Homo sapiens: one gene and its partners. The protein of the gene in region 1 interacts with the protein of each later gene in a pairwise test. Each region holds a gene or a part of one and is shown in the gene's direction. Other genes may lie near its edges. The genes, in order: ARHGAP45, PIBF1 and TRIM50.

The links.
Region 2: the proteins of ARHGAP45 (region 1) and PIBF1 interact in a two-hybrid assay, tested with the Homo sapiens proteins (one large-scale study listed by BioGRID).
Region 3: the proteins of ARHGAP45 (region 1) and TRIM50 interact in binary tests that used the Homo sapiens proteins (3 or more experiments, as listed by UniProt).

What each region holds. Positions count from the first base shown.
Region 1 is NC_000019.10:1,080,623-1,084,273, forward strand, and holds part of ARHGAP45 (rho GTPase-activating protein 45 isoform 1 precursor), read left to right. Parts: intron 1-59; coding exon 60-164; intron 165-269; coding exon 270-442; intron 443-927; coding exon 928-1,116; intron 1,117-1,201; coding exon 1,202-1,339; intron 1,340-2,217; coding exon 2,218-2,444; intron 2,445-2,520; coding exon 2,521-2,731; intron 2,732-3,615; coding exon 3,616-3,651. UniProt on the Homo sapiens protein: Contains a GTPase activator for the Rho-type GTPases (RhoGAP) domain that would be able to negatively regulate the actin cytoskeleton as well as cell spreading.
Region 2 is NC_000013.11:72,823,502-72,827,152, forward strand, and holds part of PIBF1 (progesterone-induced-blocking factor 1), read left to right. Parts: intron 1-3,508; coding exon 3,509-3,617; intron 3,618-3,651.
Region 3 is NC_000007.14:73,314,909-73,318,082, reverse strand, and holds part of TRIM50 (E3 ubiquitin-protein ligase TRIM50), read left to right. Parts: intron 1-1,393; coding exon 1,394-1,518; intron 1,519-3,174. UniProt on the Homo sapiens protein: E3 ubiquitin-protein ligase that ubiquitinates Beclin-1/BECN1 in a 'Lys-63'-dependent manner enhancing its binding to ULK1. In turn, promotes starvation-induced autophagy activation.

The sequences.
Region 1 (3,651 bases):
GGGTGATGGAGGGGGCCCCCCTGGCTGGGGGAGTCTGAACAGTCCTGATTCCCGCCCAGGGGACTTTAAGAAGTTCGAGCGGACGTCATCCAGTGGTACCATGTCGTCCACGGAGGAGCTGGTGGACCCAGACGGTGGAGCCGGGGCTTCAGCCTTTGAGCAGGGTGAGGGTCCCCTGACGGGGCTGGAGAGAGAGGGGGGTTTGGACACAGTCCATGGGCCTGGCCCTGAGCTGCCTTGGTGACACCGGCTGCCTGTGCTGCCCGCAGCTGACCTCAACGGCATGACCCCCGAGCTGCCGGTGGCCGTGCCCAGTGGACCGTTCCGCCACGAGGGGCTGTCCAAGGCGGCCCGTACTCACCGGCTCCGGAAGCTCCGCACGCCCGCCAAGTGCCGCGAGTGCAACAGCTACGTCTACTTCCAGGGTGCTGAGTGTGAAGAGGTGAGTGGGACGCCCCGACGGACAGCTGGGAGCCTTCGGGAGCCTTTGGGGTGCCCAGCACCGCCGGCCTGTGTGCCCTCAGGAATGTCCGGCCCAGAGCAGGGAGCAGTCGGACGCCTTTGGAAGGAAGCGAACGGAGGGGGTGGGGTGGGCTCTTTTAGTTCTGGGGAGCAGGGTTGGCTCTCTGAGGCAGCGAGGCAGGGGGCAGACCTGGAGGGTGAAGAGTCCTGGGGCTGTGGCCAGAAGACCTGGAGGGCAAAGGCCCTGGAGCTGTGTCCAGAAAACCAAGGGGCGGGAAGGAGAGGAGGCCACAGGGCAGGCGGGATCACCCCTGGGGTGGAAGCCACGAGCCACTGTCCAGCTTGTGTTTGCAGAAGCTGCCGTGTGGGGGCTGTGAGCGCCCCGGGGAGGTGGGGTGGAGCCGCTGGGGGCTGCGCTGAGCTGGGCGCCCCGGGGCTGGGCTCACTCACTCTGGCCGCCCCCAGTGCTGCCTGGCCTGCCACAAGAAATGTCTGGAGACGCTGGCCATACAGTGCGGGCACAAGAAGCTGCAAGGCCGCCTGCAGCTGTTCGGCCAGGACTTCAGCCACGCGGCCCGCAGCGCCCCCGACGGCGTGCCCTTCATCGTCAAGAAGTGCGTCTGCGAGATCGAGCGGCGGGCGCTGCGCACCAAGGTGAGGCGGGGGAGGAAGCGGCTCACAGCGAGGAGGCGGGAGTGGGCCGAGGCTGATGGGCCTCCCCACCCCCGGGCTCCCGCAGGGCATCTACCGGGTCAATGGGGTAAAGACACGCGTGGAGAAGCTGTGCCAGGCCTTCGAGAACGGCAAGGAGCTGGTCGAGCTGTCGCAGGCCTCGCCCCACGACATCAGCAACGTCCTCAAGCTCTACCTGCGTCAGGTGAGACCCACCGGTGGTGGCCAGGCAGAGCCTGGAAGGGGCGTAGCCAGGCAGGAGGAGGCGGGGTGGGGGTCCGGGAGCTGGAGCAGGACTGAGCTGGAGCAGGACTGGCGCAAGCGGGGGCCTGGGGAGGACAGGGTGGGCGGGACAGTGCCTGGCAGGGCAGGGCTGAGGCTGGGGGCGTGGTCACGGTAGGAGCGAGGCGGGGCCAGTTCTGCGCCGAGGCACGGACAGGGACAGGAGGGGCGGGGTGGGGCTTGGTCAGCACGTGGCAGGGGTGTGGCCACGGCAGAGGCACACCTGACGCTGTGCGGGGGCGGGGCCGGGGCCGGGGCTCGGTGGGGCGTGGCCAGAGCAAGATGGGCGTGTTCAGCGCTTGGCAGGGACCCGTATGAGGCTAGGGGCGGGGCTGAGGCTAGACAAGTGCGGGGCTGGCGGTGGGGCCTGGGCTTGGTGGGGCGAGGCTGGGGCCAGGGGCGTGGTCATCCCCGGGGAAGGGCGGGACTGGGGCTAGGGGCGTGGTCATGTCTGGGGAAGGGCGGAGCTGGGCTGGGATGGGAGTGGGACCAGCACTTCGCAGGTGGTTGGGAAGGGGTCAGACTATGCTGAGTGGAGCCGGAGCTCGTTAGGGTACCTGCAGGGCGGGGCGCGCGTGGCCAGAGCGAGAAAGGGAGTGGAGCTGCGGGCGTGGCCCGGGTAGGAGGGGCAGGGCTCACGCTGGGCTGGGAAAGGGGACTGACGCCGCTCTGGGTGGAACCCGAGCTCGGTGGGGTGTGGCCAGTGCTCTGTGGGGGTGGGGCTGAGGCTGGGGGCGTGGCAGGCACACGTGGGGGCTGGGCCAGGCCCACCAACACCTGCTGACCCTTGACTCTGCGCAGCTTCCCGAGCCGCTCATCTCCTTCCGCCTCTACCACGAGCTCGTAGGGCTGGCCAAGGACAGCCTGAAGGCAGAGGCCGAGGCCAAGGCGGCGTCCCGGGGCCGGCAGGACGGCTCGGAGAGCGAGGCAGTGGCGGTGGCCCTGGCAGGTCGGCTGCGGGAGCTCCTGCGGGACCTGCCGCCTGAGAACCGGGCCTCGCTGCAGTACCTGCTGCGTCACCTACGCAGGTGAGTCCCGGCATATGGAGTGGAGGGCGCGGGGTCCCGGGAGCCGCTCAGCACCTGGCCCCTGCCCACCCCGCAGGATCGTGGAGGTGGAGCAGGACAACAAGATGACCCCCGGGAACCTGGGCATCGTGTTCGGGCCCACGCTGCTTCGGCCACGGCCCACCGAGGCCACCGTGTCCCTCTCCTCCCTGGTGGATTATCCCCATCAGGCCCGCGTCATCGAGACTCTCATCGTCCACTACGGCCTGGTCTTCGAGGAGGAGCCGGAGGAGACCCCCGGGGGCCAGGTGAGGGTGTGGGCCTGACCGGGGCTGGCCACTCGGGGCTTGGGGAGCAGGGGGCGCTGCTGGGGACAGTCGTTGTCGGATGAAGCCCAAGGAACCACAGGGAGATAATTTGGTTTGGACAGGGCTGTTCGGGAGGCCACTGTCTTTTTGTGTCTTTTATGCAAAAAACTCAGCGAGGTCTGCATTGAATCTGGCAGAGGTGCAAAGGCTCTGCGGCCGCCCCTCCACTCTCCCTTGGGGCTGGCCTTGGGCCTCACCCTTCACCCCCAGCTTCCTTCCCCGTTTCCCATCCCGGTGCTGCCTGCAGCCACAAGCTCCACGCTGGCCCGGTGTCCACAGCCTGCCCGAGCTGCCACTGCACTCCGCCGCGAGGTCAATTCCCCGCTTCAGATTTTCTTTTCTGGGAGTTGTAGTTTCGCTCCTGCTGCCCAGGCTGAAGTGCAATGGGGCGATCTCAGCCCACCACAACCTCCGCTTCCCAGGTTCAAGCGATTCTCCTGCCTCAGTCTCCCGCGTAGCTGGGACTACAGGCGCCGGCCACCACACCCGGCTAATTTTTGTATTTTTAACAGAGATGGGGTTTCACTTTGTTGGCCAGGCTGGTCTCGAACTGCTGACCTCAAGTGATCCGCACCCCCCTTGGCCTCCTGAAGTGCTGGGATTACAGGTGTGAGCCACTGCACGCGGCGTCTCGTATTCTTTCAATCCATCTTCCCTGGGTGTTTAGGGGCTGCGGTTTCTCGGGTTTGCTCTTGGCTGAGGACAGACCGCCTGGGCAACAGCGGGTGTCAGTAGCTGTTACGGGCTGTGTGGGTGGGTTTGTTAATTTATAACATGGAAAATGGAGCCCCGGCCCCTCTATGACTTCCGTTCTGCACTTGCAGGACGAGTCATCCAACCAGCGAGCTGAGGTAGTCGTC
Region 2 (3,651 bases), on another chromosome or scaffold:
GAATGAATGAGTTTAAAAACATCGGTCATAAAATATAAGATAAACTGGGGAAGAAAAAAAAGCCCTTTTATGCCCCGGGTAAATTCTCACAAATGTACAAAAGGAAACAGGTGTATGGATGTTAATTGTGTCATTATTAAAAGAAATTCAAATGCTTTTCAGTAGCAGAATGGAAAATAAATTGAGATTTACTCTGCAATATAATTTTATGTAGCAGTTAAAATCATTAAATTAGATCTGAATGTATCACTTTTTTTTACTAAAAGTTCCTTATTTTCTGGCATAACATAATGTTCCTAGTTTTGGTTTTCGTTTGTTGGTTTTGTAATTTCATTGCCTCAGCTCTTTGTCTAAGAAGTCTTGATCTCTTAGTGGGGAATGCTATTTAGAAATTTAGGATTTGGGTGCTATGGTCATGGCTACATTGGTCATTATTTCTAGGCCCTTTGAGTAGGCAGAGAAAGTAGAGGGAGAATGAGGAGGAGGCTTAACACACTATGGATGAGATCATACTGATACTTCTTTTTTTTGAGACAGAGTCTCACTTTGTCACCCAGGCTGGAGTGCAATGGCACGATCTCGGCTCACTGCAACCTCTGCCTCCCAGGTTCAAACAATTCTCCTGCCTCAGCCTCCCAAGTAGCTGGGACTACAGGTGTGCGCCACCATGCCCAGCTAATTTTTTTTTTTTTTTTTAAGTAGAGACATGGTTCCATGGTTGACCAGACTGGCCTTGAACTCCTGACCTCAGGTGATCTGCCCACCTTGGCCTCCCAAAGTGCTGAGATGACAGGTGTGAGCCTCTGCACCCAGCCCACGTTGATACTTCTAATTCCAATTCAACACTGCAACAGCCACTTGGATGAGGTGCCAACTGGCTAAATATAGCAAACTTGAATATCACAATAAATATTGGCAATAATGAATTACAGTCCATTGAATAGAATAAGAGTTTATAAGTGCAGGCTAATAATAAATACAGAAAGAGGATCTTAAAATTTTTTTAATACATCATCTTTACCATTTTTAAGTGTACAGTTCAGTGGTAATAAATATATCCTTTTTGGGAAAGAGGATCTTTATGGTTGAAATCCAAGCAATAAATGTATATGCATGTAAGAATGACCATTTTGTAGCCGCATAATAATATTGATTCAGAATCATCATTGGAATATAAAACCATGAAGTATAAGTATGTTAGGGAATAGGATATTTACACAAAGCATCTCTTCACAATTACTTACTAATTTTAAAGGGCAAAAGGATACCTTTATAGTTAAACTCTGGCAGATGCTACCTTAACCTAGTGATCAAAGTTACTATCACCAATAATGGGATAAACTGACGTCACATACCTCAGTACATCTTCACATAACATACTGAGAATGCGTTTCTGTATCAGAGAATCATTTCTGAGAATCATTTCTGTAGTATTCCTGCCCAAGTGCCTAACCTGAATCTAATAATGAAGAAACTTCAGACAAGTGAAAATTGAGGAGCATTCTATGATGCAGCTAGCCTCTGCTCTATAAAAAGTCATAAAACACAAGGAAAACTAAGAAATCTTCAAGGTTAAAGGAGACTAAAACCCCATGACATCTAGATGCATGGTAATAGATTATAATATGATGATAATAGATCCTTGGATTACCATTATGGTAATAGAGCCTTGGCTCAGGGAAAAAAAAATTCACAAAGGGTGTTTTGGGAGACAGTTGACAAAATTTGAAAATGGATTGTATGTTAGATAATATTATATTAGGGCTAAGTCTCCTGAATATGATAATTATACTGTGATTATATAAGAGACTATCTTTAATCTTAGTAAATTCACACTAATTATTTAGGGATAAAGGGACCTAATGTCTCAGTTGAGGAAACAAATGCACATGTATGAGTATGTGTGTGTAGGTGTGTATACACATATAGATACATGACCCTTGACCAACATGGGGTCCACTTATATTCAGGTTTTTATCAACCTAACACCAATCGAAAATACAATTTTCACGGGATGTGAAACCTGAGTATACAGAGGACTGACTGTTTGGTGGGATCTGCAACAACTGCAGGACTTCAGCATGTACAGATTTGCATATTCAGGTTGTGGGGGTGGGTCTGGAACCCATTCTCCACATATACCGTTAAGACACCTGCATATATTCACATATATTAACAAGAGAGAGGGTTTGAATAAATATGACAAAGTAATATTTATTTAATATTACAAAACAAATACAACAGTGTTAATGATTGGTAAGTAAAAGCATTAAAAAGAACCAAGCTGGTTACAGCGTGTCATGTCTGTAATCCTAGTGCTTTCAGAAGCACAGGCAGGAGGATCACTTGAGCCCAGGACTTTAAGACTAGCCAGGGCAATATAGCAAGACCGTCTTTACAAAAAAAAAAAAAAAATTAAATTAGGCACATGGTGGCATGCACCTGTAGTCCTAACTCTCTGGCAGGCTGAGGCTGGAGGATCACTTGAGTGCAGTAGTTCAAGTCCAGTCTGGGTGACATAGCAAGACCCCCATCTCATAAAAAAAAAAAAAAATTTAAAAAAAAGATTTTTTAAAAAATTGCATGTGAAAGCACAAAATAAAATTTAAAAATTTTTTTAATTAAAAATAATCTAAACATTCTAAAAATAAAAAAGCACAAAATACGTATAGTAATATGTATCAGAATAGTAATACTGATAGTCATCTTTACTTATTGGGTTTGTAGGTGATTGTTATTTTGTGCTTTGCTCAGTTTTTCTTCAATAAACATAATATTTTGTTAACTAGAAGAAAAAAGGCTTTCTAAACGTTTTTGAAAAACTGATGCAAAGGAAAACAATTCCTAACAGCCCTCTCTGTGGAAATACCAGGTGGGTCAGTGAAATAAAGTGCAAAGGCACTGCTTCTGACTGCAGGGAAGTAGTTAAGAGTTAGTAAATCTGTTTCTCTGCTCATTTTAAAAAATGTGTGTTGTAGGTTTTAGTCCAATTCTTGGTATAACTTTTTTGGGGAACTTGTCTTAAAATGGAAATTAAAATCTGGGTAATCATAAACAATTTGTGAATGAAATAGTCACAAGAATGCCTGCCTACGTATCTACTATGCAATCTAAATGATAAGTTGTATTTTTTTTTTTACCTTAACTGAACTGAAAGCCTAGAGCCATGTATACATTCTTTAAAAGTTTTAACCTCAAGATAAGATTGAAGATGACTAATGAAAAAATACCAAATGTATGTTAGTAAGTTTTATTATTTACTGTACTGGCTTATGTAGTTTGTATATTCCTTAAAGGTAATAAATTGATATGTATGTATTTGAACAAGGTCTGAAACAGAGTCCCTTCTAAATCTGAAAAGTAGGTACTTTATAGTTCATGGAATTACACTGAAGCCCCATTGCTAGTGTCTCTATTCAGCGTCCTAATACATAGTCAACCCTTTTAAAGTGTACGCTGTACAAGGGGATGTAAAATTTACATGTCTCTTTGAATTTTATTTTAACAGTGAACGTGATGCACTTGAACAGGAAGTAATTGAGCTTAGGAGAAAACATGAAATACTTGAAGCCTCTCACATGATTCAAACAAAAGAACGAAGTGAATTATCAAAAGAGGTAAGCTTATAATTAGAGTCACTTATATTATATA
Region 3 (3,174 bases), on another chromosome or scaffold:
GGCCTGATGGCTGAGAAGGACCCAGGACCTGAGTTTGCCAGGCAAGCCGAGGAAACGGTCCTGTAAAAGGGGGAGTGGCATGTGGACTCTGGTTATGAGTTCAGGGTGGCTGGGTGTAAGGCAGGATATCACCAGGAGTCGGAGCTGGGAGAGGTGGGAAATGGCCAGAAGCAACATCCAGGAGCACCGGGCATCCCTTGCTTACCCTCCTCACCCTTGCGCAGCAGGCAGTATCAGCCCTGCCTGAAACTTGCTCTGCAGATTGTGGGAAGAGAGTGGATCCATGTTCTAGACCCAACAAACGAACACGTGCAGTTCCCAAGCCTTCCTCACTCCCTGTTTATGGGAGACTCCGTGTTTCTCACATTTCTTTTAGTCTTAGAGACAATTTGGTCAGAAGACATGGGTTTAAATGAAGGGACAGAGGCTGGGCATGGCGGCTTACACCTGTAATCCCAGCATTTTGGAAGGCTGAGGCAGAAGGATGCCTTCAGGTCAGGAGTTCGAGACCAGCCCAGCCAACATGGTGAAACCCCGTCTCTATGAAAAATACAAAAATTAGCTGGGTGTGGTGGCAGGCACCTGTAATCACAGCTGCTGGGGAGGCTGAGGCATGAGAATCACTTGAACCTGGGAGGTAGAGGTTTCACCGAGCTAAGATCACCCCACTGCACTCCAGCCTGGGCGACAGAGCAAGACTCCATCTCAAAAAAAAAAAAAAAAAAAAAAGTCTTGGCATGGTGGCTCATAGCTGTAATCCCAGCACTTTGGGAGGCCAAGGTGGGTGGATTGCTTGAGCTCAGGAGCTCAAGACCAGCCTGGGCAACATGGTGAAACTGTCTCTACCAAAAATAGAAAAAAATTAGCTGGGCATGGTGGCACATGCTTATAGTCCCAGCTGCTAGGTAGGCTGAGGTGGGAGGATCACTTGAGCCCAGGGGGTTGAGGCTGCACTGAGTCGAAATCATGCCACTGCACTCCAGCCTGGGTGACAGAGTGAAACTCTGACTCAAAAAAAAAAGACACATTACTTGGCCCCCATAATTGGTTTCTGATTGGCAGGTCTGGTGTGGGGTCTAAGAACCTGCATTTCTGACCATTTCCCAGGTGGACCATTGACTTTCTACTGGGAATGGGTTGGACCATTTTCCAACCAACACTGCTGGTCCCCAAACCTGCACTCTAGAAGCACCACTATAGAGCGTTTCCCCTTCTAGGAAGGAGATGGGTCCTCCCTGAAGGGGCTGTGCAGGGGAGGGGATGATGGGCATTGATGGGCATTGTGACTGCAGTCCTGCACTGTGGATCTGGCTGGGCAAACATAGATAGGATGGAGGGGTGGGGTGGGCCACGTGATACCTCACTCTCTTGTACTGTGAACTGTCACCTGCAGAGCAGAGATGCCGCAGGCCCGGCCCTTAGAAGGCGCATTCAGCCCCATCTCCTTCAAGCCAGGCCTCCACCAGGCTGACATCAAGCTGACCGTGTGGAAAAGGCTCTTCCGGAAAGTTTTGCCAGGTGAGGCCCTGACCCGTCCTCCTTCCTGAGGGCTGCCGCCCAGGGCAGGTGGCAGTTCATCGATTGTATCAGAGAGATAATAAGCTACAGAGAACTCAGATGGAGGTTTGTGGAGGGTCCTAGTGAGAGCATGGGACTGAGTTTCCGAACAGCTTGGGTTCCTGCTTACTCTTTCCTTTCCTAGCTGCTGGCTGGGCAAGTTGTGTCATTTCTGAGCCCAGGTTCCTCATCTGTAAAGTGGGGCTATTTGCACCCACCCGGCCAGGCTGCAGAGCTTGTATATAGACATACGTGTGTTGCAGCTTAGTGCTTCATAAATGGTATTAGGTTGGTGCAAAAGTAATTGCAGTTTTTGCCATTACTTTTAAAAGTAATGTACTTTTTGTCTGGGCACAGTGGCTCATGCCTGTAATCCCAGCATTTTGGGAGGCTGAGGAGGGCGGATCTTCTGAGGTCAGGAGTTCAAGTCCAGCTTGGCCAACATGGTGAAACCCCGTCTCTACTAATAATACAAGAATTAGCTGGGCGTGGTAGTGTGCGCCTGTAATCCCAGCTACTCAGGAGCCTGAAGCAGGAGAATCACTTGAACCAGGGAGGTGGAGGTTGCAGTGAGTTGATATCGTGCCATTGCACTCCAGCCTGGGCAACAAGAGCAAAACTCCGTCTCAAAAAAAAAAAAAAAAGTAATATCCTTTTAAAAATGTCCTTCCTACTCAAAGGACAAGTGGTCTTCAAAGTAATGGCAAAAACCGCAATTACTTTTGAACCAACCTATTCTTGTTCTCTGTCAAAAACAACTCAAACACATTTCATTCCTTTATTACTAGCATGCTGTCTTGTACATAAGGGAGACTGCTAACAGAGCGATTTCATCCACCAAAAGCAAAAATAGGGTTTATATAAAAGAAGGGGCTGGGCACGGCGGCTCACGCCTGCAATCCCAGCACCTTGGGAGGCCAAGGTGGGAGGACTGCTTGAGGCCAGGAGTTCAAAACCAGCCTGGGTAACATAGTGAGACGCCATCTCTACAAAAAATAATTAGTGGGGTGTGGTGTTATGTGCCTGTGGGCCCAGCTACTGAGGAGGCTGAGGCAGGAGGATTGCTTGAGCCCAGGAGTTGGGAGGCTGCAGTGAGCTATGATTGCACCACTGCACTCCAGCCTGGGTGACAGAGGAGACCTCATCAGTAAAAAAGAAAAGAATGAAAAAAAAAAAAAAGGAAAGATAAGAAGGAAAAAAATTGCAGTTTGTGAACTGTGAATCCTGTTTGTACATCTCACATTTCTTTTTTTTTTTTTGAAGGAAAATTTGTATTATTTTCATGTACAGAAAACTCAACAGTGTACGTTTTACCCAGTTTAGTGGTAGTTTCTTTAGTCTTTGCCTTTTTGAGCTTGGCAATGTGAGCCACAGACTTGGGACCCAGGACACTGCCTCCCCAGTGATGGCGGATCTCATCACATTTGTTGTTGTAATTGGTCCTGGTAGCTTCCACCAGCTTAGCCCAAGCTCCTTTGTCTTCCAAGTTAACCTGTGTGAAGGCGACAGTGGTGCAGGTCTTCCTGGGGACTAGACATCCCAGTCTTGCCTTCCCCTTGATGATGCAGTCAGGGACCCCACTTTACACACAGGCACAGGCAGGAAGACAGCCAGCTT